Homo sapiens: one gene and its partner. The protein of the gene in region 2 interacts with the protein of the main gene of each other region in a biochemical or structural test. Each region holds a gene or a part of one and is shown on either strand. Other genes may lie near its edges.

Evidence for each region. The genes of interacting proteins can lie anywhere in the genome.
Region 1: of the proteins of CHEK1 (region 2) and ATR, one has a biochemical effect on the other in vitro, tested with the Homo sapiens proteins (7 studies listed by BioGRID, with this or other methods).

The regions. Positions count from the first base shown.
Region 1 is NC_000003.12:142,576,812-142,580,411, reverse strand, and holds the start of ATR (serine/threonine-protein kinase ATR), read left to right. Parts: upstream 1-1,678; 5' UTR 1,679-1,707; coding exon 1,708-1,766; intron 1,767-3,600. UniProt on the Homo sapiens protein: Serine/threonine protein kinase which activates checkpoint signaling upon genotoxic stresses such as ionizing radiation (IR), ultraviolet light (UV), or DNA replication stalling, thereby acting as a DNA damage sensor.
Region 2 is NC_000011.10:125,649,023-125,652,970, forward strand, and holds part of CHEK1 (serine/threonine-protein kinase Chk1), read left to right. Parts: intron 1-3,948. UniProt on the Homo sapiens protein: Serine/threonine-protein kinase which is required for checkpoint-mediated cell cycle arrest and activation of DNA repair in response to the presence of DNA damage or unreplicated DNA.

The sequences.
Region 1 (3,600 bases), on a different chromosome or scaffold from region 2:
TTAATCCCATTTTATAAATGAAAAAATGGAAGTATTAAGAGATTAAGTAACTTTACTGAGGTCATATAGTTTCTAGCAGATGGAATGAGAACTTGTGTAGGGCCTGTAACTCCCAATCCCATGTCCTTTCTCCTAAAACATTCAGTGATTCATTCAACAAATGTTTACTGAACACCACCTATGTGCCAGGCACAGTTTTAGGTCCTGGGTATCTGAGAGTGAACAAAATAGACAAGACCTTGCTCTCCAAGAGCTTACACTCTAACTGGAGAGAGACAATAATATAGTATGTCCGGGTGTGGTGGCTCTCACCTCTAATTCTAGTACTTTGGAAGGCTGAGGTGGGAGGAGCGTGTGAGGCCAAGAGTTTGAGACCAGCCTGGGCAACATAGCAAGACCTTGTCTCTACAAAAAATAATTAGCCAGGCGTGGTGGCATGTCTGTAGTCCCAGCTACTCAGGAGGCTGAGGCAGGAGGATCAATTGAGCCCAGGCTGAGGTGAGAGGATCGCTTGAGCCTGGGAGATTGAGGCTGCAGTGAGCTATGATTGCAACATTCATTGCACTAGAACCTGAACAACAGAGTAAGACAATGTATCTAACAAAAAAAAGAGGGTGAGACAGAATGTGTATATATGTTAGTCTATATGAGGCTCTTTGGTGTTAATTTGGCAAACACCTGAAGGAAAAAGGGCAATGACAGAGTGGTGTTCAAGGCAGAGAGTACAGCAAATGCAAAGTTCTTGAGGCAAGAGCATATTTGGCTGTCATTCCATCACTTTTTTCTTTAAGATACTGTATCGGTTAACTATCCTCATGTACCAAAGAACAAATGTAAACATACTGCATGACTTTGAGTGATTAACTACATAACTTTGACATGTCAACAATCTCTTATGGTGGTCATCTTTCCAATAAATTGAGTTGAGCTAGAAAATGTGTATTGCCAAAATCCATTGATTTACTTTAAAAATTAAATCACAGGTTGCGGATGCCCGTAATGGTGGCATTTCCACACACAGTACTGTTGCTGATTTGATGAGACACAAATATATTCCAACCCCATTTTCAAATATTAAAAGTTGGTAGGGTCCTCAACGAAACCTAACAGTGACTTCAAGTTGAAAAAAAATGCTTAAAAGGAAAAAAACAGGGAGAGCCCACCTTTTGGCCTGTATCTCTCAGAAAGAGGGACAAGAGCGGTGGGAACGTGAGGAACTTTTAAAATGTGAGAGCGTTACTCTGGGGAAACCTGGAGTTTACTCTTGGCCTTTACTCGCTGGACTGTCATAGTTCTCACATTTGTGAAGCGAGTCTGGGCTGGCGGCCCTCAAGCCCTATCCTCCCCCGATGCGGAAGTCTTGCTTCTCTGTGCCTCCCAGGCTTGAGAACAGCAGAGTCTGGCCGCTCAAAACGAAAGCTTCACGAACGTCGCTCGCTCGGTGCTGAGAAAGAAGCCTGACGCGACCCGGGAAACTTGACCGACGCACGCCCGCCCGCTTGCCCCGCCCCCTAACGGCTTCCCGGCTTCCCCCGGGTCCTATGCAGAAAAGACGCTGGGCCTGGCAAGCGGGGCCAGTAGCGGCTTCCGGGAGGAGTTTTGGCCTCCACACGGCTCCGTCGGGCGCCGCGCTCTTCCGGCAGCGGTAGCTTTGGAGACGCCGGGAACCCGCGTTGGCGTGGTTGACTAGTGCCTCGCAGCCTCAGCATGGGGGAACATGGCCTGGAGCTGGCTTCCATGATCCCCGCCCTGCGGGAGCTGGGCAGGTAGGGCTAGGCCCAGCCTGGGTCCTGCATCCTCCTCCGCTGATTCCGGCTTGGGTTTCACGTGCTCTCCCCTCCCCTGCTGCGCTATGGCTGGGATCCCCTAAGCCCCCGCTGCGGCCCTTGTGGAGATGCTCCGTGGCTGATTTGGGCGCTTCTCCCTCAGAGTGCCCGTTGATAGCACATGGGGCAGTCGCCACAAACCTGCGGGAAGCCGGTCCGTGGGGGAGAGAGGCGTCTGCCGGCCCTGGTTTACCACTCACCCCGATCGAGAGTTTGCTTCCTGCAGCTGGAGGAAGAGTCCCTGCTGATCGCTTTCTGGTCACTTTTCTACACTCATTTTCTTCTCGAAAATCTTTTTCCTTAGACGAGGGACTTGACCCATCAGTTTCTGTTCTTTGTGATCACTCGTGGAGGAATTGGTTTTTAGCCTTACATTTTGTCCCCAAACTGCCCTTGAAAGAAAATCACCGCTTCTCATTTTCTGCAAGTGACATCACTTGCTGGAAAAGGCAGTTTTTTTCTTTGAAGTGAAGTCATAGTACATACTGAAGATGTGACCTCCCTCGTATTGATCGTCCAGTTCCCGATCCGTTATTTTAGTCAGAAATTGGAGAGATAGACCCCTGGGTCCACAAAATCTCAGCGTGCACAGAGTGTTGCCAAAATTTGGAGACAATTTAATATTTCATTTGCAAATGCATGTTGTCTGTAAACCTCATGAAAACCAGTATCTTACCACAAGGAGGGAGAGGTGTTGATGGCTCTCACACCTCTTCAATACACAGGCAGGCTTCCCTGAACCAGGCCTAAAGACTCGGTAGAGCTTGTTTTGCTTTGTTTGTTTTAATTCTACACTACTGCGAACAAGAAATAAATAAGCTTGTGCTGCTACCGCAGTTAAATTATCATTTGGAATAACTGCTTCCCAATTTCTTAAACTGTTTGAAAACTTTCCACACAAAGTCAAAGCTGACATTAAGCCAATGGGATAGCTACTTCTCTTTCTTTTTGCAGCGCAGTTGTGTTCATTTCCACTGGTTGGCCATCCAAATAATCTAGTCTCAATATATGAATAAAAGGATAAATGAAGGGACCATTCTTGTCGTAACTGCATCACTATTTTTGAGTGTGTGAATTTTTTCCACTTATCTGTGGCAAGTATACTTTGTGTTTAGTTTATAAAATAACCTCTACCTCTCTAAAAGAAGAGGAAGAAAAGTGATCATTGTAGGAAGTTGGTTTACAAATTTCATCTTTCAGGCTCATTGTGAAGCTGAGTATATTTTTGCCACTTTGCTTTAAAGTAGAATTAACTGGTTAATACTTCTCTTCCCTCTTCTGTCTTCCTCCGTGAGTCCTGTTAATAAAAATAATTGGTTCTTGGATTATATATAGTCGGTTTCATCAGTAGAGTTTATGTTACCTTTCATTTATTTGTAGCTATTCCAAGAGAAAGAATAGAAAAACTGACCCACAGAGAGTTGTCTAATAGTTTTTAATTGTCATGGCTTTTTCATTACAACTACTTGAATCAAAAAAGCTAATCAATTTTCATAGTATATCCATGACATAGAATGAAACAAGTGTTACCACTGTTTAAGAAAAAGGGACAGAGAAGTTGAAGAACCAAAGGCACAGCTAGCAGATAACAGAGCTAGGTTTCAGATTCAAGCTTTCAAGGCCTTTTCTTCCAAAATGTTTCCTCTTAATTGACTATGGCAATTAGACTACTGAAAAAAAAAGATATTAGTGTTCTAATTTATGGGCTGCTCTTCCTCAGTCCCTCAGATAAATTTTGTCCTATTGTTTTTTTGCTATTAGCAGTCTGCTCTGC
Region 2 (3,948 bases):
ACCAGGCTGGCCTTGACCTTCTGGGCTCAAGTGATCCTCCTGAGTAGTGGGTACTACAGGTGTGCACCACCATGCCCAGCTAAATTGACAGTTTTCATCAGTCTGTTTATTTTGTCTAATGTTAGTATATCCACATCAGCTCACCAGCTATCTTGTGTATTTTCCTTTTTTTAGATGGAGTCTCACTATGTTGCCTAGGCTAGACTGTAGTGGCTACTTAAAGGCACGATCATAGTGCAATGCAGCCTCAAATTCCTGGGCTCAAGTGACCCTCCTGCCTTGGCCTCCCAAGTAGGTGGGACTGCAGGCATGTACCACCATACCCAGCTACCAGCTCTCTTTTGGTTATTGTTTCCATGGTCTATTTTTTTTTTCCTTTTCCTTTTAACCTATTTGTGTCTTTGAATCTAAAGTGCCTTAGCCAGGTGTCATGGCTGACACCTGTAATTCCAGCACTTTAGGAGGCTGAGGTGGGTAGATCACTTGAGGCCAGGAGTTTGAGACCAGCCTGGCCAACATGGTGAAACCCCATCTCTACTAAAAATATTTTAAAAATTAGTTGGGCGTTGTGGTGTGCACCTGTAATGCCAGCTATTGGGGAGGCTTTAGGTGGGAGGATAGTCTGAGCCATTGGAGATCAAGGCTGCAGTGAGTCGTGATCTGATTGCATGACTGCTCTCCAGCCTGGGTGACAGAGCAAGACTGTCTCAAAAAAAAAAAAAAATCGCTTCTTAGCCTTTTGGCTAAGATCAAGTGTAGTATCTATTCCTATCAGTTTAAGTGCCTTAATTTCTCTTCCACTTTTTGGACAGGTAGTTTTGCTGGATATAGAATTCTTATTAGCTTTTGTCTTTCAGCACTTTGATTATGCCACTACTGCCTTCTAGCCTTTGTGGTTTCTGATGAGAAATCAGCTGTTAATCTTACTGAGGATCTCTTTTATGTGAGACGTTGCTGCTCTCTTGCTGCTTTTATGTTTCTCTGTTGACCACAGTTTGACTATGGTGTATCTTGGTGTGGATTTCTTTTTTCATTCTGTTCGGAGTTCGTTGAGCTTCTTGGATATGTAAATTAATGTTTTTAATCACACTTGGGAAGTTTTTGGCCACAATTTCTTCAGATTTTTTTTTTTATATCTAACTCTCCTCTCCCTCTTGGACTCATTATGTTTATTGTTGGTATACTTGATGTGCCACAGTTCTTAGACTCTGTTCATTTTTCTTTATTCTTCTTTCTTTATGTTTCTCAGGGACAGTTTTGGTTGCTGTTTTTCCTTTATAAGGGCCATACTTTGTTTCCTTACATGCTTTGTAATTTTTTGTTGAAAACTGGACATATTGTGGCAATATGTGGCAACTCTAGAAAGTCAGATTTTCCCCTCTTGCCAGTGTTTGTTACCGCTTGATGTAGTTGTTTGTTTTTTTTAGTGGTGTTTGTTTTTTTTTTTTTTTGAGACGGAGCTTTGCTCTTGTTGCCCAGGCTGGAGTGCAGTGGCGTGATCTTGGCTCACTGCAGCCTCCACCTCCTGGCTTCAAGTGAGTCTCCTGCCTCAGCCTTCCAAGTATCTGGGACTACAGGCACCTGCCACTGTGCCTGGCTTTTTGTATTTTTATTAGAGATGGGGTTTCATCATGTTGGCCAGGCTGGTCTCGAACTCCTGACCTCAGGTGGCTGGGATTACAGGTGTGAGGCACCATGCCCGGCCCTAGTGATTTTTCTTATATAATTTTTTAAAGTTGGTATTGTTTGTCATGCATGGCTGTACAATTTCTGTCCCATTAGTTTTAGTGGTCAGCTAATGATTGGACAGAGATTTCCTTAAATTCTGTATACCAAAAACAAAAAATCTGCAGAGTGTTCTGTATTTGTGTTGGGGCACACCTGCAATACTCAACCAAGAAGTTTACAACGTTGCTTCAGCCTTCGCTATCTGCTTGTGCAAAATGCAAAGTTAGGGCACATGTAGAGCTTAGGGGCCTTCTCAGCTCTTTCCTAAGCATATGTACTGCCCTGGTCATGGGTGTGTCTTTTTAGATTCCCAGGTATATGTTGGACCTTTTCAGAGTCCTATTCCCCAGAAACATCTCACTCCCTAACCTCTTCTTCCAAACTTCTTGGGTAGTCTGTTTGCACCAGTTGCTTTCATTGCTTCAGGCAACAGAGACTAAAGCATTTTCCTGTAAGTGTTTTCAGCAAACGCTACTCAGGAGTAGCTTTAGCACAAGGTGAGTTAGAGTTACAAAGGTGAAATAAAGACAAGCCTCTTTTTTTTTTTTTTTTTTTGAGATGGAGTCTCGCACTGTTGCCCAGTCTGGAGTGCAATGGTGTGATCTCAGCCCACTGCAACCTCTGCATCCCGGGTTCAAGCGATTCTCCTGCCTCAGCCTCCCAAGTAGCTGGGATTACAGGCGCCTGCCACCACACCCTACTAATTTTTGTATTTTTAGTACAGACAGGGTTTCACCATGTTGGTCAGGCTGGTCTTGAACTCCTGACCTCAGGTGATCCACCCACCTCGGCCTCCCCAAGTGTTGGGATTACAGGCATGAGCCACTGTGCCTGGCCAGGACAAGCCTTTTGATCAGGTCATTTTAGAGGGTCAGATCGGCTTAAGATAGTTTGTAAATGAGGTTTATTCTGCTCCCACCTGGACCTATGCCTTAAATATGAACTGTTATTTTCAAGGCTGCTACTGAGTGAGGAGCAGGGGATAAACAGGGTAAGTTAAAATGCCAGAAAGCTCACTGTTCTTACTGCGTTTCACTTGTTTTGAATAAGTTGCTGCAAGCTTTTAGCTAGTTTACAATGTTCTGAAAAAGTTGATTCTGACAGGCTTTGGCAGGTTTTTAAAATTGCTTTTGTGGAGTAATGGACTTCTGGAGTTCTTTTCTCTGCCATTTTCACTGACATCACTCCTTGATTCACTCTCTCTCAGTTCTTGAAGTATTTTCTTTGTCTTTGAAGTTTAAGAGCTTAATTCAGATGTGTTGAGTTGAATATCTTGTATTAATTTTCCCAGAACATAGTGGGTTATTTCAGTGCTGCACAGTCGTGGTATGGTTGTGTGTTTTCATAGTTTCTTGAAGTAAGAATTATTACAAAAACTTTTGTAATTTGGGCTGTGTTTTTTGGGCAAATCTGCTGATCTCGCTCGGGCTTAACTCATCCAGCTGTAGTCATTTGATGTCTTTACTGTGGCTGGTGGTCTAAAACATCCTTACTCCCATATTTGGAGTCTTGGCACTGTCTGTTAGCTGAGTCTTTTCTTTCTGCATCATTCAGCTAGGCTGAGCGTCTTTCCATGCCATAGGAACGTTCTAAAAGACTGAAAGTGGAAGTTGAAGGCCTCTCAAGACCTTTGCCATCTTCTAATTGCCGCTCTAGCTTTTCAGCCACAAGTCAGGCCTTTTTCTTTCTCACATTTTAATAATCTTGTTTTTCCTCCCATTATGTTTTCATCTTTGATTGTTTCTTCTTTCAGTGGTATTTTGGTAAAAGACAGTAAGTTTTGTTGCTATGAGTTCATATACACTCAATCCCTAGGAGCTGCACCCCTGTTGATAGATTGGGTTGGGGACACACATACCCACTGGGAGAAGAGAGACTCTGGAATGAGTGAGATTATCAGCATACTTAATATTACTCCTGTTATGGAGGTAGCCAGCAAATTTTTTTTAATTGATACAATAATTGTAATGTATTCATGGGGTATGTAGTGATGTTTTGATTCATATAATGTATAATGATCAGATCAGGATAATTAGCATATTCATAATTTCAAACATTGTGGGAATGGGAATGTTCAGTGATGGGAATGTTCAGTATCCTTCTAGCAATTTGAAACTCTATTATTGTTAAGTATAGTCATCCTACAGTGGTCTAGAACTTACTCCTATCTAGCTGTAATTTTGTATTCTTTCATGAATCTCTATCTTTCCCTTCCCTCTC